Homo sapiens: one gene and its partners. The protein of the gene in region 2 purifies or fractionates together with the protein of the main gene of each other region. This does not show direct contact. Each region holds a gene or a part of one and is shown on either strand. Other genes may lie near its edges.

Region 1 (7,033 bases), about 39 Mb from region 2:
CGTCTCAAAAAGAAAACCAAAATCTAAATAGACAGAAACAATCAGACATTATGTGCCTCCAGATGTGATCTAAATATAAGGTATACAGCACTACATACAAGTTATTTTTGCTGCAAATGTTTAATCTGAACCTAACCAAGCATCTATACCTAATTTCTAGTTTACTACAAATGCAGGAGATGGAGAAGCAAGTTACAGGAAAACAATCAGACAAATCCAGAATGTGGCACAATTTATAAGAAATGGCCAATCATTTTATAAAAATAAATATCAAGCAAAAAAGATGGAGGAAAAGACATAACTACTCAATGCTGGTTGTTTAAAAAAAAGTTATAGCCAGGCACGGTGGCTCACATCTGTAATCCCAGCACTTTGGGAGGCTGAGGTGGGTGGATCACCTAAAGTCGGGAGTTCGAGACCAGCCTGACCAACATGGAGAAACCCCGTCTCTACTAAAAATACAAAATTAGCTGGGCGTAGTGGCGCATGCCTGTAATCCCAGCTACTCGGGAGACTGAGGCAGGAGAATCGCTTGAACCTGGGAGGCGGAGGTTGCAGTGAGCCGAGATTGTGCCATTACACTCCAGCCTGGGCAACAAGAGCAAAACTCTGTCTCAAAAAAAAAAGTTATAAAAGATAATTTGGTGACTCGGGAAAATTTGATTACGGACTAGGTAGTAGATGGTACTTGTTCATTTTCTTTGGTACTGGTAATGATACCAGTATTGTAGTTACATAGGAGAACGTCCTTATAACCTGAAGTACACAGAGCTGACAACTGGAAGGTTCATCATACGCATACGCGCTTGTGCACATACACAGAGCAAATGTGGCAAATGTTAATCAATACTCAATCACGACTGTGGGGCTACAGTTCATTATTATACAGTTTATTATTATACAGATGTTTGTTGTATTGTTCAATTTTTCTGTATATTTGAAAACCTGGATAACAAAAAGTTAAGAAAAAAAAAAACCAAGTCAATGCCAAGAAAAGAAAAAAAGGAAACAAAATTCTAAACTATAAGAGACTGAAGAGATAACAACCAAACACAATGAGTGAATACTGGGTGCAAAACAACTACTCTAAAATGTATTTTGGTAACACTTAGGGAGACTGAAACATGAACTGTGTATTAGATATTAGGGGACTATGATTAAGTTTCTTAGGTGTGGCAACAGTATTGTGGTGGTACAGAAGAATGTCATTATTCTTAGGAGATGTATGCTAAAGTAATTAGGGATGGAGGGTCACAATGACTACAACTTTGAAATGGCTCAGAAAAAAATAAGAGAGTCAGAGAAACAAACGGATAAGGCAAACACTGTAAAATGTTAACATTATTGAATCTACACGGTGAGTATATATGTGTTCTTTGTTTAATTCTTTATACAAGTTTGACATTTTTCATAATTAAAATGGATACAAAGTTTTTATAGGGCCGGGCGCAGTGGCTCACACCTGTAATCCCAACACTTTGGGAAGCCTTGGCGGGTGGATCACCTGAGGTCAGGAGTTCCTGACCACCCTGGCCAACATGGTGAAACCCTGTCTGTACTAAAAATGCAAAAAATTAGCCGGGTGTGGTGGCACATGCTTATAGTCCAAGCTACTGGGGTGACTGAGGCAGGAGAATCACTTGAACCCAGGAGACAGAGGTTGCAATGAGCCAAGATCGCACCACTACACTCCAGCCTGGGCGACAGAGCAAGACTCTGTCTCAAAAACAAACAAACAAACAAAAAACCTTTTTTTAGGTAGATAATTCATGTCTATTATGGTTACCCTTTAAATGAGGGACATCTCCTAGCTCAGCAGCAACAAGTATCCTCTGACTTATTCACTCAATGTATTACCAAACAATATACCTACCTAAGTAAGAATTAAGATGTTGCACGCAAGTTCCCAAAAATTCATCCCTTTGAGGTGGATCATAGTTCAATACGCTGAATGGACGAATAATAGCAGGGATTGTAAAAGGATGGATCTGTATAAAAAGAACAAAAAATTTATAGTTTAAACTTTAGGAAAATAAGACAAAATTTTAACCTAATTATTTTTTAGGAGAAATCTTTTCCTATCATCGCTACAGTTAAATAATAAATGTATCACCCTGCTTATTAATTTTTCCATCCTGCTATAATTTATTTAACCCCACCAACATTATTAATAACCCCAAAAGTGTTAATGTAACAAAAAAGAAGTAAATCAGATAATTTACAAATTTATTTTGTTAGGTGTAAAATTCTGTTCTGGCTGGGAGTGGTGGCTCATGCCTGTCATCCCAACACTTTGGATGGCTGAGGTGGGAGGATTGCTTGAGGCCAGGAGTTCGAGATTAGTCAGGGCAACATAGTGAGACCCTGTCTTTATTTAAATTTAAAATAAGTAAATAAATTCTGTTTCAGAATTCATTAGTCACTAAATTGAATAGGAAACAGTATCAGCAATTTCCATGATAATCAGTACATTTTATAGAATAATCATAATTAAAGAAGTTTCTTAAATTATAATCACTAGCATTTATTTTTCTTTCATTTGCTTTTTTATTTCATTTTTCACTCATTCATCCAATACTTAATGACTTCCAGGCACTATACTAAGCAAGTTAAGACAAACTTTTTATTTTCATTTGTGAGAAACACTGTCTTTTAAATAAAGGCCTTGCCCTGATATATTTATGATAGTGATTTTGTAAGTGAGCTGCTTCTCACATAATCCATAAAGCGGCATTTTACAAGTCCCAGAAATAAATCTGCAAGAAGATGCAATGACAGTTTAAGAATATAGTTGCCAATGGATACCTTATAATTTTCTCAGTTTTCAAGCTTATCTCACACTTTTGAATATAATTGTTTTTAAATGGTAAAAATAATACCACACGATTACAGAAATAAGAAAAAGTAAAACCAAAAATCATTCATACTCCACTGTCCTAACATGAGTATCCTCAAAGAATTGATTACTAATCTTAATACTGTAATGAACCAAAGAATGATTGCTGATCTTTCCAAATCTACAATGCCGGAATGAGAAAGTGACTTTAAGGAGAGGAACAACAAATCGCTGAAATAGAAACCAGAGTTTTCTTTGTTTTTCTTAAGAGACAGGGTCTCACTCTGTCACACAGGCTGGAGTGCAGTGGTGCAATCATAGCTCACTGAGCCTTAATTCCTGGGCTCAACCAATCCTCCCACCTCAGCCTCCCAACCGCTGGAATTACAGGCTTGAGCTACCACATCTGACCCAGAATTTATTTAATTTTTAAACCTCAAATTCCAATCCAAGTTCTCAAAGTGCCTATGATAAAAATTATGCTTGCAGAAGTTGACAACTCTATAAAATTAATGTCTACCATTTAAATTTCACCTTTTCAATCTGCTGAACAGCCACTGAGGCTATCCTATCTAGTAGCAAAGTACTGAGGTAATCAGTACTAGAAATAAAAGATGCAATCTCCCCAACATTTATGTAATTAATATCATCCATGAAATGCTGTAAAGTAGCAATCATTTCTTCAAGAAGTGACTCAGGAAACGTGTTTCCTTTGAGAGATTTAAGTTCCTTCCGTAACAGATCCAAACTGTTGCTGTGTTGTAGTCTCTGACGACCATAGTGATCTAATTTTTGAAGTAGTTTCAGTTGTTTCGCAGTCATATTATCCAAATACATGTGATCATGCTGAATCCATCTTAAAACAGATGTGGCAAAACTACTCAGGTTATTTAGGTCACACTGTGGTAAAACGGCTTCAATTCGGGATATCCCCACTTCGTCCAAGTGAGGAGAAGGGAGCAGGGAAATAGCACGGACCAGAACAGACACCTCAGTTGGTATGAAACTATTTTTCAAATAACTGCAAAATGAAAAATGAAAAGAATACATCAGCAACAAACCCAAAATATATATGTATTAAAATATGAATACATATGAGTACAATTAATAGGTAAGATGATGATTCAAAAAAACCTCTTTCAAACTATGTTTCTCCTCTAATCTCAAACCACAACAATCATCAACCACAGAAGACTTCTGTGACCAAATGTGTGGGAGTTCTTCCAAGCAGCGGATACCAACTGGGTGTCCAATTCAGTTCTGACACAATCTACCTGGGGACAGTGTCAGATCCCACAGGTTGGGAACTTGGTCTCTAAGACTAACCTCTCCCACAAAAACCCCAGACTCCACTTGCAAAAGTAGGCCTCCAGAACTTCTGAGCAACCGGCTTCAAGTTGGGTTTCCCATGACCTCCTCTTTGGGTTTGATTAATTTGCTGGAGTGATTCACAGAACTCAGGGAAGCAGTTGTTTATGTTTACAGGTTTATTATAAATGATATTATAAAGAATGCAGATGAAGGGACAGTAGGGTGAGGTATGCGGGAAGGGGTGCAGAGCTTCCATGCCCTCCCTGACCATGCCACCCTCCAGGAACCTCCACGTGTTCGGCTATCCGGAAGCAGTCCAAACCCAGTCTTCTTGGGTTTTTATGAGCTTCGTGACATCAACATTTCCTCACACAGGGTGTAGGGTGGGATCTCTCAGGGGAGCGTCTTAAGACCCACGATCAGAAAGGTGGAGGGAGATTAGAGTCCTGCTTTGGGGCAGGAGAGAGATTCTCTTTCCAGAGGCCTAACATACCCAACATTGTTAACAAAAGGCTATAGCAAGAGCTATAGAAGTTATGAACTAGTAACTAGGACAAAAGCCAATATATATAACATCACAGGTGGGCATAATACAAGTTAATTTAAGAAGAGTTAGATAGGCCAGGCACGGTGGCTCATGTCTGTAATCCCAGCACTTTGGGAGGCCAAGGACAGGGGTTCGAGACCAGTCTGGCCAACATGGTGAAACGCTGTCTCTACTAAAAACACAAAAAAATTAGCTTAGCCAGGCATGGTGATGTGCACCTGTAATCCCAGCTACTCAGGAGGTTGAGGCAGGGGAATCTCTTGAACCAGGGAGGTGGAGGTTGCAGTGAGCCAAGATCGTGCCACTGCACTCCAGCCTGGGCGACAGAGGAAGACTCCATCTCAAAAAAAAAAAAAAAAAAAAAAAAAAAAAAAAGAGTTTGATAAATTCAAAGATGACAGGTCCATAAAGGATTATTCAGGAAAGCCTAAGACTTCCTGATGCCCTCCGTCTCAAAAAAAAAAAAACAAAACAAAAACAAAAAGAAAAGAAAAGAAAAAAAAATCTTTAAGTATAGAAATAGTGGAAGGAATAAAGGAATAAAACAGGAAGACCTGTTCTGAAGCACAGGCCAAAATTTTTTATTCAAAAATAAAACCACAGTCCCAGGGAAACAAAAGGTCCATGTCAGAACAATGTTTCCAGTGCTGTCGCTGAAGAAAGAACTTGGGTTCAATTTCTGATATCACCTGTCAGGCCCTGGCATGCAGTGATCACGTAATAAAATTGGTTCCTTTTTTGTTTCCGATACACAGTCCAACATTTAAAACAAATGAATAAACAAACAACAACAAAAGAAACAGGACATAGTTGACCTCATTCTCTACTTCATTCCGAAATCCCCATGGCAAGAGTCCCACCACCAGGACAATAATTGTTAAAAAAAAAAAAAAAAATTGAAAAACTGGGGCCGGGCATGGTGGCTCACACCTTTAATTCCAGCATTTTGAGAGGCCAAGGCGGGGGATAGCTTGAGCTCAGAAGTTCGAGACTAGCCTGGCCAACATAATGAAACCCCATCTCTACTGAAAATACAAAAAATTAGCCGGGCGTGGTGGCACATGCCTGTAATCCTAGCTACTGGGGAGGCTAAGGCATGAGAATCGCTTGAACCCGGGAGGCGGAGGTTGCAGTGAGCCGAGATCACGCCACTGCACTCCAGCCTGGGTGACAGAGCAAGACTCCGCCTCAAAAAAAAAAAAAAAAAAAAAAAAACTTTAGGTATAGAAGTAGTGGAAGGAATAATACAATCTAAATTAAAACAAAATTGAGGCTGGGCGCGGTAGCTCACTCCTGTAATCCCAGCACTTTGGGAGGCCAAGGCGGGCAGATCACGAGGTCAGGAGATCGAGACCATTCTGGCTAACATGGTGAAACACCGTCTCTACTAAAAATACAAAAAAGAGTTAGCCGGGCATGGTGGTGGGTGCCTGTAGTCCCAGCTACTCAGGAGGCTGAGACAGGAGAATGGCGTGAACCCGGGAGGCGGAGCTTGCAGTGAGCCGAGATGGCACCACTGCACTCCAGCCTGGGCGACAGAGCGAGACTCCATCTCAAAAAATTAAATAAATAGCTGGGCGTGGTGGCTCACGCCTGTAATCCCATCCCTTTGGGAGGCCGAGGTGGGCGGATTACCTGAGGTCGGGAGTTCGAGACCAGCCTAACCAACATGGAAAAACCCCGTCTCTACTAAAAATACAAAAAAGTTAGCCAGGTGGGGTGGCGCATGTAATGCGCTGTAATCCCAGCTACTCGGGCGGCTGAGGCAGGAGAATCGGTTGAACCTGGGAGGCGGAGGTTGCGGTGAGCCGAGATTGTGCCACTGCACTCCAGCCTGGGCAACAAGAGCGAAACTCCATCTCAAAAAAAAATTAAAAATAAAAATAAATAAATAAATACATTGAGTTACTTTTAAAATATTTTTTAAATTAATTTTTTTCTGGAGACAGGGTCTCACTCTGTTGCCCAGGCTAGAGGGCAGTGGCGTAATATAGCTCATTGCAGCCTTGACCTCCTGGGCTCAAGTACTCCTCCTGCCTCAGCCTCTCTACACACTGGGGATATAGGTACATGCCACCACGCCCAGCTAATTTTTTGTTTTTTGTTGTGGAGACAGGGTCTTGCTTTATTGCCCAGGCTGGTCTTGAACTCCTGGGCTCAAACAATCCTCCCAGCTCAGTCTCCCAAAGTCCTGGGATTACAAGCATGAGCCACTATGCCTGGCCATTTAAAATATTTAAATTAGCATACTAAAATAATCGTAATATTAATACTCAGTGTTAGCAAGGGTGTACTGATACAGGCATTCTCATTCACTATTAGTAAACTTAAAAAGTTGG
Region 2 (7,033 bases):
AAAGATGTAGGCTGGGAGGCTAGGCCAGTCTCTCTTTTCACATTTTTCTACCTGTTTATATTCTAGCCATGCTGGCAGCTGATTGTGACCACCCAGCTTAAGGGTGGGTCTGCCTTTCCCAGCCCACTGACTCAAATGTTAATCTCCTTGGGAAACACCCTCACAGACACACACAGGATCAATACTTTGTATACTTCAATCCAATCAAGTTGACCCTCAGTATTAACCATCACATACAGAACGGCAGATAGCTTGAAAAAGTAGTTCACCTAATTTCAACATTTTAACCCTGAGCTCAGAAAAATCATAGTAAGCTTTATCATGGCTAAGCCATAGTAGGGCAAGTCAAAGTATGCGGCTTCTATTTCTGACAAAAATTTAAAGAACTGATGATAATTAAGTTCGTAAGGGTGAACAAAGTTGGCCATTGACATTATTGGTTCAATAACACATGATATATTCAAATATTTCCTACAAAGTGCTTGCAGATAAATAATACAATAAATAACCATTGATTTTAAATGCTTTATATTTTCATGAGCTTTTGATTGGTCTTCCACACAAAGGTTTAACACCATCATTTTTAACACGTCTTAGCACACTCCACTTCAGGTTGAACTAAATTAGTCATTTTCTCAAATTCTTTGAAAATGTTCTCCCACACAGACTATTTTTCAAGGCAAACGCTTCAGTAAACCAAACTCAGCATTGACTCCTCAGATAAACAACTGATTAATATCAGTAACAAATGTTACTGATATTACTCATCAAGGGCCAAGGAAAACCCCTTAAAATCATTTGCTTTGTTTTTTAATTGATTATTGATGTTGCTACAACATCCTCAACTCTATTCTTTTCAAAAGGTAAGTAGTTTTAAACTAGCTATTTTCTCTAGACACATTTCATGCCTGCTACAATCAAACATGATTTAACCCATTTATTAATTCACCATTGGTAAATGGCTTTCCTCGCTTAGCTAACAAATGAGAACCTTACTTTGAACTTTACTTTTATTGCAGCCTCATTTTTTAAAAGAAGTTATGTGATATCTCATCTTAAATTTTCTAATTTTTTCTGACTGAATGCTGTGCTATCAGCTGGGAATACTGTAATGATTGCTTAATCTGGGAATGACAACATATATTGTATTATATTAGCACAGCTGTAGTATCACTGAATAATAAACACAATGCTTTTCCATTTTATTTGATAGCAAAAAAATCCACATACACTATGCCTTTAGAAGCAGAATATTTAGTCCATTTTTCTCTTCTTATTTTGACATGATGGGTTCTCCCTGGTAGCGAAAAAAGTAAAGTGAAAATGTAGAGCAATACATGTAGCACTTGAAATATGTCAAGTTATGACTGAGTCACTGCAATTCAGAACGCACCAAACAGCCATGCGAAGCGGTAGTAGGTGAATGAATGTGGCTGTGTTCAAATAAAATTTTATGAACACTGAAATTTTAATTTTATTTAATCTTCACACTTACAAAATATTGTCCTTTTAAAATACAATAAAATCCCCTTTTAAATGTTTTAAATCTTAGAATAGTTTTAGATTTACAGAAAAAAAATTTATTTATATAAGATAGTACAGAGTTCCCATAAACACTCAGTTTCCCCTTATTAAAATCTTAGATTAGTAGGTATATTTGTCATAATTAATGAATCAATATTGATCTATTGTTATTCACTAAGCTGATACTTTATTCAGATTTTCTTAGTTTTTACCTAACGTCCTTTGTCTGTTCTGGGGTCTCATCAAGACACCATATCATGTTTAGTTGTCATGTCTCCTTAGGTTCTTCTAGGTTGTGATAGTTTCTCAGGCTTTCCTCATTTTTATTTATCTTAATAGTTTTGAGAAACACTAGTCAGACATTTTGTTCCACAGCTGGGTTTTTTTTTATGGTTTTCTCATTATGGAACTGGGCCAATATGTTTTGAAAGGGAAGACCACAGAGGTAAAGTGCCACTCACCTATCAAGAGTGCAAGCTATCAACATGACTTCACTCTTAATGTTAACCTCGATCCTTCTTCTGATTTTTATTCAATGACTTAAAAATGTGAAAATCATTCTTAGCTTATGAGGCATAGAAAAACAGATGATGGAATGAATTTGGTTAGCAGACCATAGTTTGTCCATTTTTGTTCTAGTGGATAAAAATTTTGGAATAAAGTTTGAGAACTGAGGATGTATCAACCCAAAATTACTTATTCTAATAGATATTCTAATAGAAAAAAAAAACTGAAAAAAAATTCACTATCCTCATTAGCTGACAAAGGACTCAAAAGATAAACAGAAAAAGAAATAGTACAATGGTTATTGCTTTTATTGAACTTGGGGGAATACTATGAGGAATGTAACCATGCAGGATATATTATATCTACACATGCACAAGACTGAATACAAAAATATCATTAACTACTATTGTCACCAGATATATTAAATGGGCTCCACTTTTATTAAATTATATTTTTATATTAAACTTTTATTATATTAAACTCCACTTTTAGTTGCTTTTGACAGAGCAGGAGCACTGTCATCTTGGACAAACACCACCATTTTAAGTTCTAGCTCCCTTTCTAACCTCAAGCATTTCAAGGAAATCACTTCTCTTCTAAACAAGCAACCAGAAAGAGCAGACAGTAAAACAAAGATAAGACAGCTTGGGCACAGAAGGAGGGGGAAAGTCTCTTGAGTAACCACCAAACTTCACACTCATACAATGAGCCCCAGTAAAACAGTGGGCCCTAGTAAGCATATTCCTTTCCCATTAGGTGCACTAAGATAGGGAAGCTAAAAGCAGACGTGGGGGATATGCCTGCAGCTACAGGAAGATGTACGGGAACAAACACAAAAACTCTCCCTCCCAGATAAGCAAGACAAAGAGGCACAGAAGCAGTCCAAGCCTGTGATAAGCTCTCCCACCCTGAACCCTTAAATACTCTTAGTCTGCAAGAGAGCATGCTCCTGACCAAAACTGGCCAGAAGCCCGTCTCAGGTTTATTCTGTCTTTGACTGTTGAGCCACTTTTTGTGTTTCTTTCTTCCTTCTTCAACCCTTACACTTTTAGTTGTAACATTATTCAAGGTGGCTAATTAGGTAATACAAATAAATAAATGGTTTTCAGCAACACATAGAAAACTTCAAGAATGTAAAAATAATACATGTTCCATTTAGTCAATATTTTACATTCCATATGTTAAAAATGTTCAAAAATATAAAAATAATGGTTAATGCAGGAATAATTAAGTGTAGTTCTTGCACTATTGAAATCATAACAGAGCTCAAATTCCATTTTGAAGTAACTCACTTTATAGTTCCTGAGCACTGAATCATTTTTACACTTTCATTCCTTAAAGCCCAATTTTTCTTTCTGTACATCAGTGACACTTGATAGTGTCAAATGCTGTCTCTGGTAAGGTTGGCTCTTGGAGTTTCTGTAATCATGACTTCTATGTAGCTGTGTCTGAAATTGCTAGAGTGGCATCACATGGGGAGCACATACCATGATAATAACACTCCAAGATGAAAGGAGGATCACTTTCTCAAGATTCAAGTGGTGGCTCTCTGTCATTTGTAATATAATTTAATGAGTTCAAATTGCCAGTCTTCTACATTGTTTATAAACATTCTGTGTGTGTGTGTGTGTGTGTGTGTGTGTGGTCACTTTTTAAACAAATAAAGATGAAATAACTACATCTGTGTTTATATTTTATATGAGCAAATAAATTATGGAGAAAGAGGTGGAAGATACACAGTATTATCTGAGTGGGATTGAGAGGAGATGGGACAGTAGTGAGAGAGAAAGAGAATGAGTACATAAGACAGGAAAATAGTCATAGGAAAATGGAAAAAAGTGGATTGTATAATGTCAAGTGAAAATATATATAAAATTTCATTTATGACATAATTGAAAGTATATATTAATTGAATAGGCACATAGACAAAGACTAAATAGAAATGTGGGTAGTTTCTGCTTTTGATCCCTGTTATATGTATATAGTAAAAACACTCTTTAAAGCTAGCTCTGTTGATAACCTGAAAAAATATGAATCTCTGGTATGCTGGAACTCTAAACCTTATACTCTTGACATGATAAAATGAGACCCATAATTTTGCCACTTATCTGTGGCCACCCAGCTAATTTATAGTAAAACGTGGACTACAGCCAGGTGTCCTATCTCCCAGTACAGTGTCCTCACACAGCACTACCTCTGCCTTTCAAGGCTATTCTATGGCAGCTCTACTCAGTGATGGAGTTCATTTCATGGGGAAATGAAATCAGCCAATGATTATCACTCTAGAAATAGTGTTGACCTGTTTTTGGACATGACAAGTCATCAAGAAGACTGTTTCCTGCCAGCAATTGGCAATGAGAATCTGAGATTACAGAAAATCAGGCTGAAGGCCAAATTATAGATCTACACATAATAGCAGCAGTGGCCAATGTTCTATTCATTTCTAACTAGTGTCACTCCCTCTAGGCAACACATCTGTCATGCAGCACAGCTGTGCGATCCTGGGAGACAATAACAACTGGGAAAAGTAAAGTGGTAATATCCATCAGCAAGAAGGAAACAAATTTTGAGCAAAAGCAATGAGGAAGTTAGATATTGATCAAGTACTTATATTAATAAATGTAATATTATAACAGCTATCAGTGTTATGAAGAAAATGTCCAATTGCTATCAGAAAAAATGTGGGTTCTGAAGAAGAAGCCGTAAGAAATAAAAGGAAGAGAAAATGGCCTCGCAAAATTCTCACATACATACACACCCCATTTAAAAGCCTTCAGGAGTTCTCACTAATGCTTAGAAATAATCTTAATCTAGTAATCATTCCATTAAAAATAACTTAACTCATCTGCTAATAAAAGAAGAGGAAAGAGCTGACATCTTTTGTTATCAGGCACCTTTAAGCTTTTTGTTTGTATATGTTTAATTCAAGACTCACATTCTATGAGTAGATGTCACTATAATGCTTATTCTATGAGTAAGTCCTATTTTACAGTGGAGCCAGTGGAGACAACCAAGAGATGAAATTAACGACTAAAGTCACACGGCTGTTTAAAAATTTAATGAATAACCCAGAGAAAAGAAAAAAACAAAACAGAGGGGAAAGAAAGGACAAGATGGGTTCCAGTAGATGACAAAACCAATTGAAGTTCAAGACAGGAAAATAAGTGAGATGCATGAATGCCTGCTGAAAATATTTTATTTTGTCACAAAGAATTGAGGAAGTTCTGGGAATATGAAACCTACTCTCTGTGCATTGGCAAGGAAGAGCCACACCTGGGACCCTTCCATCTCACTGCCTCTGGTCTACCAGGGCTGAAGAGACTACTCACAATTAATGCAGCCACCAGGAAGCCCATTCCTCAGGGATTTAAGGCTTCCTTATAACTAGAAGACAAATGGAAATAGTCCTCGTTGTCAAGAGAAAAGAATGAGAACAAACCAACTCTCTTATCTTTAACTACAATAGTGTTTGTGGCAATAAACACAGTATAGAGATAATCAAATGTTGAGTTTCCATTTCATTCTGCCAAAGACAGTCCCTAGTTTCCACTTTGGAGAAGCTGCCTATATTCTAGGACTTGGTATGATCTCAGCTCACTGCAACCTCTGCCTCCAGGGTTCAAGCGATCCTCCCACCTGAGCCTCCCAAGTAGCTGGAACTACAGACGTGTGCCACCATGCCCAGCTAATTTTTGTATTTTTAGTAGAGACGGTGTTTCACCATGTCGGCCAGGCTGGTCTCGAACTCCTGACCTCAAGTGATCTGCCCGCCTTGGCCTCCCAAAGTGCTGGGATTACAGGCATGAGCCATTGTGCCCGGCTGTCCTCATTCTTAACTCCATCAGTAATAGTTTTGACAGTTCTGTTTATTATCACCACAATTTGTAATTAACACATGCGTTGAGATGCAGAGTGCAGGCCTACTTGATTTATTGATTTATCCCATTTTATGTCTATACCCCACTCCTACTTCTCTACCTCCCATATACAAGCATTTATGTAAGACACACACACACACACACAATCTTTTATCTGAATATGTTCATAAAACATATATTACTGTTTTATGTGCATGTATTTTAATGTATGTAAATGATATCATACCATATATCCTATTGTTTCTGTCACATGTTATCCTGTTTTTACGATCTTGTCCATGCTGATTTGTGCACATTTAAGCCATTGCTTTTTATTGCTACACAATACCCCATTATAAACACCCAGATTGCCCCTAATTCTCTAACACCACAGAATTACTGCAAGAATCATTATAGACCTGGGTGAGAAATTCCCTGGGATAGAGACTCGGGGCGGAGATTGCTGGGACAGAGGACATGTGTATACATAATGTCACTAAGCAGTGCCCAGCTGATCTCCACAATGAGGGTACCAGTAGGAGGGGTGGGCCCCAGAGGTAAAAGTCAGAGTATAAATCATGGCTGCTTGTGTGAGTTGAGTATATTATCTAACATCTCATAGCCCCATTTTCTCATTTATAAAAATGTGAACAATTACAGTGCCCATCTCATAAAGTTACTGTGATAATTAAATGAGAGAATCAAGTACTTAGCACAGTATTTGGTACTTGGCAAGTAGCATTACTGATTACCATTTTTCCACACCTAGAAAGAGATTTCTGATTTTCTAGTAGGCTCTGAATCTTCATGCTGGAAGGTCAACAGTAGGAATTCTAAGACCTGGCCATTTTTTCGCAGCATGGGACTCCTCTGATGGGCACCTTTCCCCCAAGGTTCTCCTTTGAGTTGGAAAAAATTTTGTCAGATTTGCTTGCCGGTCTGAGGTTACCCCTGTCCAATCCTTCTCCCTCTCCCTTTCAACTTTCACAAGCATTACCTCCTCCCCTAATAAACCTCTAGCACCCCAATTCCATCCTACAGTCTGTTACCAGGAGGATCCACTAACACAGTAAAGAAAATACTGAACATGTTTATATAGTGGTCCTCATTACCATGTGATAATCTGACTATAGAAAATGCATTGC
Region 3 (6,550 bases), on a different chromosome or scaffold from region 2:
TGAAGCTCAGGTGTTGACTATTACTACGATTAGGTCTGATGGTATCGCACACCCAGGATGCCAACAGCGCCAACTCCCGCTGATTGAGTTCCCACTGTGTGCCAAGAAAGAAGACACTAGGCCTTCATGTACATTGTTTCATTCATCAACCAGCACCCTAACTAACTCTCTTTTCTTGGTATTTCCTGTATGTCAGAAAAGGAAACTGAATCTTGGGGAGATTAAGCAACTCTTTCAAGGTCAACCGGGGAGCGGCAGAACCAGAGTTCGAAGGAAACCTTTCTGAATCTGACGTCTGCCCCTTCTAAATTAGGACTCTCATCTATCAGCCTGTGAGAAAAAATACAGAAAGCATCATTCAGGCAACACATGAACTCAAGACACTGAGACTTCGCTAACCTTCCTCGCACACAAGGTCCTAAAGGAACTACCACACGCATGTCCACATTTGATGCACATAACAGACTCTCACCGCATTGAAATAAACCCCAGTATGATCATAATAGCTTTTTTCTTTCAATTTTTATTGAACACAAGTATTCCGACAGAATGCAAAGTCAAAATTCTCAGTTAGTACTCAGTATTTACACCAGTGAGAATGGAAACAAAGGTGGTATCGATGTTTCACTTGGTAAAAAGTTTTATAACAAGAGAGAAGGCCCCCGAAGTACAGAATGCTGGGTAGGGATGTTAATGGAGGTCTGAAAACCGCCATCCAGACAGACAGCCTCAAGTGAAAACCTGGGACTCGGAAGGCTCCATAGAAAAGTGTGAAAATAGAGTTCCACCTCCAAAGCTGCACTATATACACCACAGCCCTGCAGGGTCCAGTGGCCCTGCTCGTCACACTTGAGTGCTCCTCCAGCAGAACTTGGCCATGCCGGTCTTCATGTGAATACATATGTATGGCACATACACACATAGACACATAGACATTGGAAACTGGAGTTGATCCCTCCTTCAAAAATTAAAAAAGAAAATTATAAGCTTTGATCTCTTAACATAAAAGATAAAACATCTTGGAATAAAATGACTCCCTCTTTGATTTTAGAGAAAGCATTGCTTTTTTTTTTTTTTTTTTTTTTTTTTTAAAGGAAAAACTCTTGCATGCTGAGACAAACCTATGTGTAATGGGAGAGAACAGACCAAAATGTGGGCAGAGTCTTAGGTCCTAGCTAATGGCAGAGCCAGGGTTCTAGGGGGTCAGCTGTCCCGGGCCAGGTGATCTGAGGGCTGACCTGTTTCTTCCTAACCATCAGAACCAAAACCAGTTTGACCTAACCACAACCACTTTGACAGTCTTGACAAGGTATGGCATGGGCTTGGCCTGGTGTGGCAAAGCCATCGACATTACAAGATGAAGAACTGAGTCCACTGAACAGCCTGGTGACCAGAAGAGCCTGCCCCTCACTGCTGGGCCCTCCCGGTCTCAGACACCCAGGCTCTCACATTCTACTGTGTGCTCTAAGATCTCTCTTCATGTTCCTCTATTCTGAGGGCCTGTGCATTTGAACCAGAGATCTGTGCAGGCCCTAGAATCAAAGGGGCCAGGGCTGTGTGTTCTGGGATCCTCCATTTCCATCCCCAGGAGCTGAGAAAATGCAACATAACCCCACATTGAGCAAATGACAAGACCATTATTCTTCACAGTTTGAAATTATAATCTAGCATCGCCACTGATCAGACTGCAGAAGTGTCAGAACGTTGGGGAGAGTGGCCCACAGAATGGACCCAGAGGCAGCCTTGCCACCCTAACCTCTTGCTGCTTTGTACCTTAGGAGAGGAGCGCATGCGGAGTACTGATTTCTGTTTACTTAGCATCATCTTCATCATCATCATCATCATCTGTATTTCATTTTCTTTGTTAAAAGGCTTCGATTCCGTTTGAGTGATTTTTGTTTCCTGAATATTTTTTCTGAACTATCTGCTATACCTTCCACAACCAAACTATGTTGAAGTTTTATTTCAATACTATGACAAAAACACGTTTCACACTAAAATATTCACGCATCCACAGTGCACAAGCTTGCAGTTCTAAAGTAGAATGAGGGAAAAAAAAGCAAAATTTCTATACAAAGGGCTGGCTTTTCCCTTCTCCCCCCCCTCCCATCCCCCTTAAAGTTTCTGTATTTTTTCCCCCACTTGGTTTCCAATCCAGGAAAGTTGTGTTATGACTCCAGACAGTAGGTTGTTTCTTTCTTCTTTTGTTTCTATAAATGCTGCCTAAGTGAACAGAAGGCCGATGTTACTTTACTTCAACAGATTTCCAAAAAAAGACACTAATTCCCTGAAGCACACATGCTCTTCCGCTCAAATCTAGATTCTGGGCTCAAAAGGAAATGGTATGTATAGATTTTATTTGGCTTTCTACACAAAGGGGATGTGTGGGGTAATAATGTGTGTTCACCAAGACCAGCCCCAACTATACAATCTTCTCTGCTTCATTCAACAAAGCCTAAGGAGTCCTTCAAAAGAAGGGTGAGAACGCCTGGGAGCAGATCCCTTTTCACAGATGCAGGCAGGTGGCGGCTAATCAGAAAGTGGTCTAACCCCCAAAGAAACACAAAAATAACCAAAAATTCAAAAGCAAAACCATTCCAGAATGAGATGGATTTTCACCTGAGTGGGACCCAGGCAAAAACTGCAGATCAGAAAAGAGGGGAAGAGCAGCTGTAAACAATCATGTTTTGTAAAGTTGTCCTGTGCTAAAGCAAGCGTGGGATGATCCTACCTACCTCTAGGTGGTATTTGTTACCTTAAAAAATAAAAGGCAGCTATTTTACACGGACATTTAAACACAACCAAAGTCAAACATTTGTCACCTTGTAAACACTGGAAAACAAAGTTGGCAGAAAGAAAGAAAGAAAAAAGAATGTAAAAGAAAGAAAAAGAAGTCTGAATACTGCAAATTGAGATCTACCCCCAGAAGCTGCAATTTGGCATTCGTCCTATAAAATAAGAGTCTACGTGGGAATTGAATTCAGCTAGAAAGGGTGACACACTTTGCATACTGAACAAATACAAAGTGAACAGAAATTATAACTTATTTATGAGGTTTTACAGAGTTCAAACTTGACTGAAAGTATAAAAATAAACTGTGGACTTTGTTCATTCGATTAGTCTTAGTGCCTGAAAGTATTTCTCTGAAACTGGTCTGTGCCAATCGGGTAACACCAAGTGTGGTCTTCCTGAACCTAGATTTCGTTTCTGAGCTTCCTAGATTCTTAATTTGGGGTCCTTTTGTTTGATTTTTTAACGGTTTCAGGGAACGGAGTGTCCTAGTTTGGCTGTGGGTTTAACCTTTTTGTCTCATTTTCTTACAAGTGAGTGTGCAACAAAGGGACCCTTTCTATAAACCTACAAAAAGGAGATTCCCATGTTTTATCTGTTTAGTTTTTTTTAAAGGCAAAAGACACTAGAGAAATGAGATGTGTGTGTGTGCATGTGTGTTTGTGTGTGTGCGTGCGTGTGTGTGTCTGTGGTGTTGGAAATGCTCTGGTGAAGCTGCTGTGTCACTTTTTATTTTGATCTTTGCTCGGTTCTCTTCACCCATCATGCTTTGCTCTCGTTCTCCTTTGTCTGTGTGGCGTCATTGGGGACCGTCTTGACTTCGGCTGGCGCTGGCTTCGTTTCTGTCTCCTGGCACTCTGGCTTTGCTTCTACGGGGCCCTTCCTGCAGAGAATCAGGAAAACAGAACCACTGAGACCACGGTCTGCAGACATCTCGCCCCTGCATCCAGGCCTTGGGGACAGCAGGGAGGAGGAGGGGTTCTCCAGTGACAGCACCCGGCTCCAACCTCTGCCCGTCAAATCACCTGGGAGCACTAAAAATCACCCAAGCCCGAGCTGTGTTCGCGGAAATCCTGATTTAATTGGTCCGGACACAGTGACTTTTAAAAGCACCCAAGTGACTCTAATGTGCAGCCATAGTTGAGAAGCACTGAGTCAGAAGAACGAGTCCTTTCCTCTTCCAGCCCTAAGTTGATGCCAGAGGCTGTGTTTTTACCTGGGGTGGTGGAAGGGGGCAGCAGAGGCAGCTCCTCCTCACCCTGACCAGCTGCAGTGGCAACAGCTCAGCTGGATGTAAATGCAGCCTGCTGGGCTGGGCTGGGCTCCCAGCACTGATTTCAGGGGCCCCTTTGCAACCCACTCTTGCCTGTCCCTTCCCCACCCCACCCTGTGCTGTTGCAGGATGATGCCTCTAGGGCCTGCCTGGGTAGGGTGAGAAAACACTGATGGAGGCAGCTTTTCATGGCAGCCTGGTGGGGTACTAGAGTGGGCCTGGTGGCTATGCGAGAGTTGAGGGCAGCTGAGTGGGCAGGGCTATCAGAGTCCTTTTCCCTCCCGATGCTGAGATTCAGGGCTCCTGGCGAGAGCCCCTTGCAGCCCATGGTGGCAGCATGGCAGCTTATCTGGGGAGCAGCCATAGGAGCCTCTATAAAAATCTAGGTCTGACTCTGCCTCCATCAGTTCCAGGAAAGGGAGTCGGGTCTGAGGATGCATGGGGACAGGCACAGACCCCAGCCTCAGCTGGTGCCACTGAATTTTGGCAAGACACTTACAAACCTGAAAGGTTAAGGCCTTTCTCTTGAACTTTGAGACCCAGCAGCCATTTGATGCTGGGGAGCCCCGAGTCTTCCCAGCCACTCTAAGAGCAGGAGAAGCAAGAGTGGGCTGGGGGCCGGGGTTGGGAGGGGAGGGTGAGCATCTGAGCCACAGTGTGAGGGGACCTCTGAACTGCACCCTCCCCTGCCACGGGCCTGGGGCCTACCTCTTTTCTTCCTGCACATCAGTGCCTTTCTGGTAGGGACTCAGCCTGGCACTGAATAACACACCGACTGGGGGCCCCAGGGTGGCTGATAAGGGCACCTTGGCCTTCTTAGCCTGCTTCCCAAGCTATTCTCATCAGTGGCCTGACTGCAAGGGCTCCCCCAGGGAAAACAGAAGCCGCTGCTAGGATGATAAGGATAAAACATAATTAACATGGCCTAATTAGCCAGCAGGCGGCTGCTCCTGGGGCCCAGCTGCCTGTCCTGCTCTCTCTGCCTTATCCCAGCCCCTTGGTTGACGGTCGCCTCAGAGAAGCCCTGGATGAGGCTGAAGACACATCTAACAAGGAGGACACAGCACAGCACAAATGCACACCACCACAGGACACAACCCGATGACAGCAGACAAAGAGAGGCCGTACTCGGTCTTTGCTGGCGCAGGCGAAACAGAGCTGTCTGCAGTGGAAGGAGCAAGCTCAGGGGCTTGTCCACTGGCCCCAGCGGCGGGAGCAGGAGAGCCCAGGGCTGCAAAAACATCCTTTGCAAGGTCAATATCTGGGGTCTTGAAGTTCCCTTCGTCCATTTTAAAGTCCTCGCCCTGGGAAGGGTTTGTGGTGCTGACGGAGGCAGCCTCGCTCTTCGGGCTAGCAAGGGCTGTGGCTGCCTCGGCCGGGCTCTTCGCGGCTCCGGGCTGGGTGGGCTCCGGGTCCGGGCCTTTGGTGCTGGGAGCCTCCTGCTTGGCCTGAGGGGCTTCTGTGGCAGGGGCAGCCGCTGCTGCTAGAGGACTGGCTGCCCCAGTCGGGGTGGGGACTGGTGCAGGGGTGGGCTTGCTGGCCGGAGGAGCCTTAGAGGCCTCCCCGACACCAGCAGGGGCGCTTGGGCTGAGGACAGCCCCTTGGTTAGCCAGGACACTAGAAGACAAATTGCTAGCGGCAGGGGTTGAGGTCGGGGTGTCGCTCAGGTCAACGAGGGGGGCGACCTTGGGGGCTGAAGCTGGGGCCGGGGAGGGGGCAGAGGCGCTGGGCCCCTTGGAAGGGGTGGCCTGGCCAGCCGGTACAGAGTTTGAGTCAGGCGTGGCCGTGGCCGGCGGGGCAATACTGGAGGTCAGGGTGGTGGTCTCACTGGTGGGGCTGTTCTGAGCAGTGGCAAAGGTTTCGGTGATAGTGTCAGAGTTAGTGGTGACGGTGGTGACAGAAGGCAGCATGTCCTCGACAGTGGCCGTAGTGTCGGCAGGCAGCCTGTGGGAGGACAGGAAGTAGAAGAGAATAGACAATGAAGCTGAGACGTGACAGAGAAGCGAGGAGGAGGGCTGAAGCCCAGGACAGGGACCATGGGGGTGGGGGCATGCAGTTAGGCACAGGCACGGACACAGGCCCACAGAGAGAGAAGGATGCTGAGAGGAAGCACACGCCCAGGTGGGCAGAAGAGGACACAGGAGACGACAGAGAACGTGGCGGTCTCAAAAGGGACCTGCTAGCCCTTCCCTGCTGATGTCTCTCCAGCTCTCTGCATAGAGCTCCCTTTCCCTGAAGTCCTTGCAGACCTGCCTAGGGCTTCCTGATCCCTGCCCTGGATCTCCATTCAAGGAGGGGCAGGCTTCTGTTCAGCATCCACCTGCTCTAGGCTTCCCAGGTCCCAGAGGAACTGGGCCCAGCTGTCCTGCAGGGCTCCCCAGGGCACCGATGGGAAAAGTCACGAATAAGGCAGATCACGAGTACTCAGAATGGCTCATAGGAGCTGTGGGTTCTTCCAGTCACAGATTTTGTGGTTCCCTGAAACTC
Region 4 (5,580 bases), on a different chromosome or scaffold from region 2:
GGGGATGGTTCCTGCCCGTCTGGTCTAACCTGAGACGAGTTTTGGCTACCCCACCACGAGTTATGAGACGAGCAGGCTGGGGCCTCACTGCCCCTGGCTCACCTCTGCATGTCGCTGGGTTTCTCAAGGAGCTCAGACTGCAAGTGAGTAAGCATTTCCACTCTCCTCAGAGAAGAGAGATTGTGCTCCAAAGTGTAATGGCGAATGGGCCACCACCTCCCCTTCGCCCAGATATTCTGACTATGGAGCAGGTGGAGGCTGCAGGGGCCTCACATGCCAGCTCCTGGGTAAAGTATGTATGAGCACAGAGCCCCGGGCTACATAGTGAGGGAAGGCAGCCAACTCGGGACTTATCGGACCCGTGGCCTCTGTGCTCCCAGCATGTATGGGGCTGAGATGATGGCCTGGACCTCGAGGAAACACAGGCAGGAGGAGGCATGAAGGCGCTGAAGGGAACCTCTCCACTCGATTCTCTTTGTATGACACAGAAAGTCCACAAAGCCTCCGAGATGTGTTTACTTATTCTTCTGTGTCCCCAAAACCCCTTTCCAAAATAACATTTAAATGATTGTTCTGTGCTGTGTGTTCAAATGGAGATAATCAGATGCCAGTGGCTTTACAATGTGGGTTGCATTCCATTTTCCCAGGCGCCCAGGTCCTGGGTCTCTAGGCCACCGCCCGCCGTGGCCGCCCCTCTGCTCACCAGGGAGGCCAGACAGGAACCCTGCAGCTGCCAGAGCAAGCACGTCCCACAGCCTTGGGAGGCCTCCCAAAATGTGTCCAGATTCCCACAGGCAGAGAGAGAGGGACTGAAAGGCTGAAGTGAAGTGACCGTGCCTGCCCAGCCTGGGACTGAGAGCCTGAAGACCAGCTTTCCAGACTCTGTCCCAGAACCCCCTTGGCCCTCAGCAAATCCCCTCCTCCTGGCCTGAAACAGACTCCAGGCTTCTTGCAGAGACGTCTTCTGTGGAGAACCAGAAAGATTGAGTCCACCCTGACTGTCCCGGGACAGAGCTGCTGAGCAGGGTGCAGGAGCCACAAACACCGGATCTTTCGAGGCACATCAGTGACAGATCTGGGCACAGCTGGACCAGCCAGGACATTGAGCCACTGCAGCCCCAAGGCTCTAAATGCGGTGCTTCAGCTCTAGCTTGGCCACCGTGGCCCGGTGCACCTCGTCAGGGCCGTCGGCAAAGCGCAGGGCTCGGGCCCAGGTGAAGAACTGAGCCAGTGGGTAGTCGCTGCTCAGGCCTGCTGCTCCAAAGGCCTGGCAGACACAGAGTGGAGGGAGGCGGCCCTGGGTCAGCCCTTGTCTCCGAGAGCCCCAGGAATGATAGCCTGCTCTTGATGGCCCATAACAACCATCTTCCCGGACTTCCCTGTGGCACCTATGTGATACAATCACTAATATTCCAGAGGGCTTCCATGGGGCCACACCTGCCATCCCACGGCCTCCAGACTCCCCAGGCCCACTCTGCAGGTGCCTTCTGCCCTGTGCTGGGGCCGGGGGTTAGGATCTAAGGAGGCGGCCCCCCTGCATGGGAAAGAGCCTGGGCTCTGGGCTTATGAAAACCCAAGTTCATGTGAATTTGAGGTCAGCTACTTGCAAGCTCAGTGACCTGGACAAGTCACTTCACTTTTCTGTGCCTGTTTCCTCACATTCAAAATGGGGGTACGATGGCACCTCCCACCTTGCTGGGTCATTCTGAAGAGGAAAAGGAAAGTTGCATGCATGGTGAGTGGGTGACACAGGGCATCTGCCAGGGTCTATGGGAGGCTGGGCGGCTGAAGATAGGAGAGTTTGGCATCTAGTATTGATGGTTCAAATAAGCCAACTGTCTGGTCTGTGCTCACCTGAATCGCACGATCAATCACTCGGGAGGCCATGGACGGGGCGACCATTTTAATCATGGCTATATCCAAGGCTGCAGCCTGTAAGGAGGAGGAGATGCGATCATAAAAGACCCGAGGGCAGCCTGGGTGGCAGAGTGAGGCCCCCCCGTCCCCCATCTCTACTAAAAATACAAAAACTAGCAGGGTGTGGTAGCATGTGCTTGTAGTCCCAGCTACTCAGGAGGCTGAGGTGAGAGGATTGTTTGAGTCTGGGAAGTTGGGGGCTGTGGTAAGCTGAGATTGCAACACTGCACTCAAGCCTGGACAACAGAGTGAGACCCCCTCTCAAAAACAAACAACAGGCCAGGCGCGGTGGTTCAGGCCTGTGATTCCAGCACTTTGGGAGGCCGAGGCGGGCAGATCACCTGAGGTCAGGAGTTTGAGACCAACCTGGCCAACATATAGTGAAACCCAGTCTCTACTAAAAAATACAAAAATTAGCTGGGCGTGATGGTGCACACCTGTAGTCCCAGCTACTTGGGAAACTGAGGCAAGAGAGCTGCTTGAACCCGGGAGGCGGAGGTTGCAGTGAGCCAAGATTGTGCCACTCTACTCCAGCCTGGGCCACCGAGTGAGACTCTGTCTCTCAAAAACAAAACGAAAAACTAAACCACAAAAAAGACCCGAAGGCAGAAAGCCTGGAAGAATGATCAGATTCCCAGCAAGAAGTCAAACACCACCGTCCAAAACAGAGGCCCCAAGGTCTCGCTGATGTGAGCTGGGTGAGGCTGCCCCTGCCTGGTGTACGGCTTGACAGCACCCAGGGATGAAGGGCGCCATGTTGGCAACTATTATCTTATGTCACAAGATGCGAAGCAAGTGCTGGCAGAATGTGGCTGTCTTCCCAGATGACGGGGAACACAGCCAGCACACACTGAAGGGATAAGGGGAGGGTCCTGTGCTTTGCTCAGGGTCACGGCCAGCTCTGCCTCCAAGCAGCAGTGGACCAAGGCCACTCAGGGCTCTGGGAAACCGAGCTACAGTGATCTGCCCTGGGGCAGGGTGTTCAAGGGAGACACCCAGCAGCCTCCACCATATCTAGCACGCCAGCGTCAAAGAACCAGGAACTGTGAGCATGAGCATGGGTTGGTCCCTGATGGTTGAGGGTCTTGGGTGGGGTTGGAGGCTGCCCCACAGAAAGCTGGACAAAGCAAGGTCAACATGGCATTGTGCTTGGTCATCACAGGCACTTAGAAAGAGCCTTAGTTAGCCTGGGCAACATGGTGAGAGCCGGTCTCTACAAAAAATAAAGAATTAGCTGGGCATGGAGGTTTGCGCCTGGAGTCCCAGCTACTTGGGAGGCTGAGGCTTCAGTGAGCCATGATGTACCACTGCATTCTAGCCTGGCTACAGAGCAAGGCCCTGTCTCAAAAAATAAATAAATAAAAGGTTAAAAAGAGCCTTAGTGAATGACTAATGTCACACTTGAAAATAAGCTTCTATTTTTGTTAATTCAATATTCAGATGAAGGCCAGCAGAGGGTCCCTTTTCCCTGCCTTACTCTTAGGTTGCCCAACACCTCCACCAATGGCCCTGGGAGTCCAGGGCCACCCAGGGGCCCTGTGGCCCCATCAGACCCACTGCCTTGGACTAAGCAGCTCACCAGGTCAGTAAAACACAAAGGCCAGTCCTCTCTTCTTGTGCCTTTCCAATTTTTGAAAAACTGCCCAAACAGCTCCAAGTAGAGGTGAAATAAAGTTTCTAATGTCAAGAAGCCAGGCTCTCATGCTTTGCTGAGTGAGGAGGAAGAATCTCTGCCTCTGGGAGGCCCCCTCGTGCCCCTGCCCCTACCTTGTTTCCTGCCAGGTCCATGAGGTGGGCAGCTCTCAGCACCAGCAGCCGTGCCTGCTCAATCTCCACGCGCGACTGCGCGATGTCCGCCAGCACTGTGCCCTGCTCCACCAGGGGCTTCCCAAAAGCCAAGCGGGACTTCACCTGTCGACACAGGAGATGTGCGGCTGAGGACATGCTGGGCTGGGGGTGGCCACGAGAGGCGGGGGCTGGTGGCCTGCAGAGCTGGGTGGAAGCAGACAGGACAGGGCAGGGGAGGAGAGTGAAACCAGGACTGTGCATCTTCTCAGCCAAGGTGCCTGTGTGCAGCCATGCGCCATGTCCAGGGAGTAGGTCTGACACACAACCTTCACGTGTGCCACAGCCAGCCACAGCCCACAGGGTGCCTGTAACAAATTGCTTCCAAGAACCCTTTATTCCAGCCATTGCACATCTGGGCAGGCCTGGCTACCAGACAGGAGCAGTTATAGATCTGAGCCAGCATCTGACCCAAGGCTACTCCTGGGAATGAGGGAGTGACTGCAGGCACTGCACACGGCGCAGGCGAAGGGTGCCCTCTGCTGACCGCAGCACCCCTTCCTGCCCTGCAGCTCCAATGGGAGCAAGGTCCCCTCAGCCCCGTCTCGCTCCCGGCCTTCCGCCGTGGGTGGCCTTATCTGCAAGGGGGATTTTAAATTCTGAAAGTCACAAGGCATCAGAAAAGGTTCTAAGTATTCCTTTTTTTTTCTTGTTTTATTTATTCTTTTTCCTTCTTTTTTTTATTATTTTTTTGGAGACGGGGTCTCACTTTGTTGCGCAGGCTGGAGTGCAGTGGCGTGATCTTGGCTCACTGCAACCTCCGCCTCCCGGGCTCAAGCAATCTTCCTACCTCAGCCACCTGAGTAGCTGGGACCACAGGCAAGAACCACCACATCTAGCTAACTTTCCAATTTTTTGTAGAGACAGGGTCTCACTACATTGCCCAGACTGGTCTCAAACTCTTAGACTCAGGCAATCCTCCTGCCTTGGTCTCCCCAAGTGTTGGGATTACAGGCATGAACCACCACACCCAGCCTAGTTTTTTTTTTTTTTTTTCACTAAAAACAATCTACACAAATAATTTATCTCATGGCAGAAAAACTACCTGTTTTCAGAACAAAAAAAGAGAAGACAGTAAGAGCACCTAGAATCCCACCATCTAGTCACCACTAGTTAATATTTGGTGGATATTCTCCTCTATCCTTCTATAGTTTTTTTATATATACTTATTTTTTCCAAAAACGGGAGCCACACTCTATATATGGTTTTGTAGCCTTTTTGTTTGTTTGAGACAGAGTTTCGCTTTTGTTGCCCAGGCTGGAGTGCAGTGGCGCGATCTCGGCTCACTGCAACCTCTGCCTCCCGGGGTTCAAGTGATTCTCCTGCTTCAGCCTCCCAAGTAGCTGAGATTACAGGTGCCTGCCACCACACCTGGCTAATTTTTGTATTTTTTTAATAGAGATGGGGTGTTTCATAATTTTGGCCTGACTGGTCTTGAACTCCTGACCTCAGGTGATCTGCCTGCCTTGGCCTCTCAAAGTGCTGGGATTACAGGCATGAACCACAGCACCCGGCCAGCCTGCTTAAAACAATAACAACAACAACAACAACAACAACAAAACATTATTTTGCATCAAAGCTAACAGCCTGTTTTTGTTTGTTTTTTTTTTTCCCAGACAGGGTGTTGCTCTGTTACCCAGGCTGCAGTGCAATGGCACACTCACAGGTCGCTGCAGCCTCGACCTCCCAGGCTCAGGAGATCCTCCCACCTCAGCCTCCTGAGTAGCTAGGACTATAAATGTGTGCCACCACACCTGGCTACTTTTTTTTTTTTTTTTTGAGACAGAGTATCGCTCTTGTTGCCCAGGCTGGAGTGCA

What was found.
Region 1: the proteins of PTH2R (region 2) and FASTKD1 purify together in Homo sapiens (co-immunoprecipitation; 2 studies listed by BioGRID and IntAct, with this or other methods). This does not show direct contact.
Region 3: the proteins of PTH2R (region 2) and NCAM1 purify together in Homo sapiens (co-immunoprecipitation; 2 studies listed by BioGRID and IntAct, with this or other methods). This does not show direct contact.
Region 4: the proteins of PTH2R (region 2) and ACAD10 purify together in Homo sapiens (co-immunoprecipitation; 2 studies listed by BioGRID and IntAct, with this or other methods). This does not show direct contact.

The regions. Positions count from the first base shown.
Region 1 is NC_000002.12:169,542,848-169,549,880, forward strand, and holds part of FASTKD1 (FAST kinase domain-containing protein 1, mitochondrial), read right to left. Parts: intron 3,858-7,033; coding exon 3,371-3,857; intron 1,989-3,370; coding exon 1,874-1,988; intron 1-1,873. UniProt on the Homo sapiens protein: Involved in the down-regulation of mitochondrial MT-ND3 mRNA levels which leads to decreased respiratory complex I abundance and activity.
Region 2 is NC_000002.12:208,409,784-208,416,816, reverse strand, and holds part of PTH2R (parathyroid hormone 2 receptor isoform 1 precursor), read right to left. Parts: intron 1,298-7,033; exon of another isoform or gene 1,231-1,297; intron 1-1,230. UniProt on the Homo sapiens protein: This is a specific receptor for parathyroid hormone. The activity of this receptor is mediated by G proteins which activate adenylyl cyclase. PTH2R may be responsible for PTH effects in a number of physiological systems.
Region 3 is NC_000011.10:113,272,390-113,278,939, reverse strand, and holds the end of NCAM1 (neural cell adhesion molecule 1 isoform 2 precursor), read right to left. Parts: intron 6,008-6,550; coding exon of another isoform or gene 5,192-6,007; exon of another isoform or gene 5,039-5,191; intron 3,674-5,038; coding exon 3,553-3,673; 3' UTR 504-3,552; downstream 1-503.
Region 4 is NC_000012.12:111,752,020-111,757,599, reverse strand, and holds the end of ACAD10 (acyl-CoA dehydrogenase family member 10), read right to left. Parts: intron 3,829-5,580; coding exon 3,685-3,828; intron 1,933-3,684; coding exon 1,855-1,932; intron 1,268-1,854; coding exon 1,127-1,267; 3' UTR 501-1,126; downstream 1-500.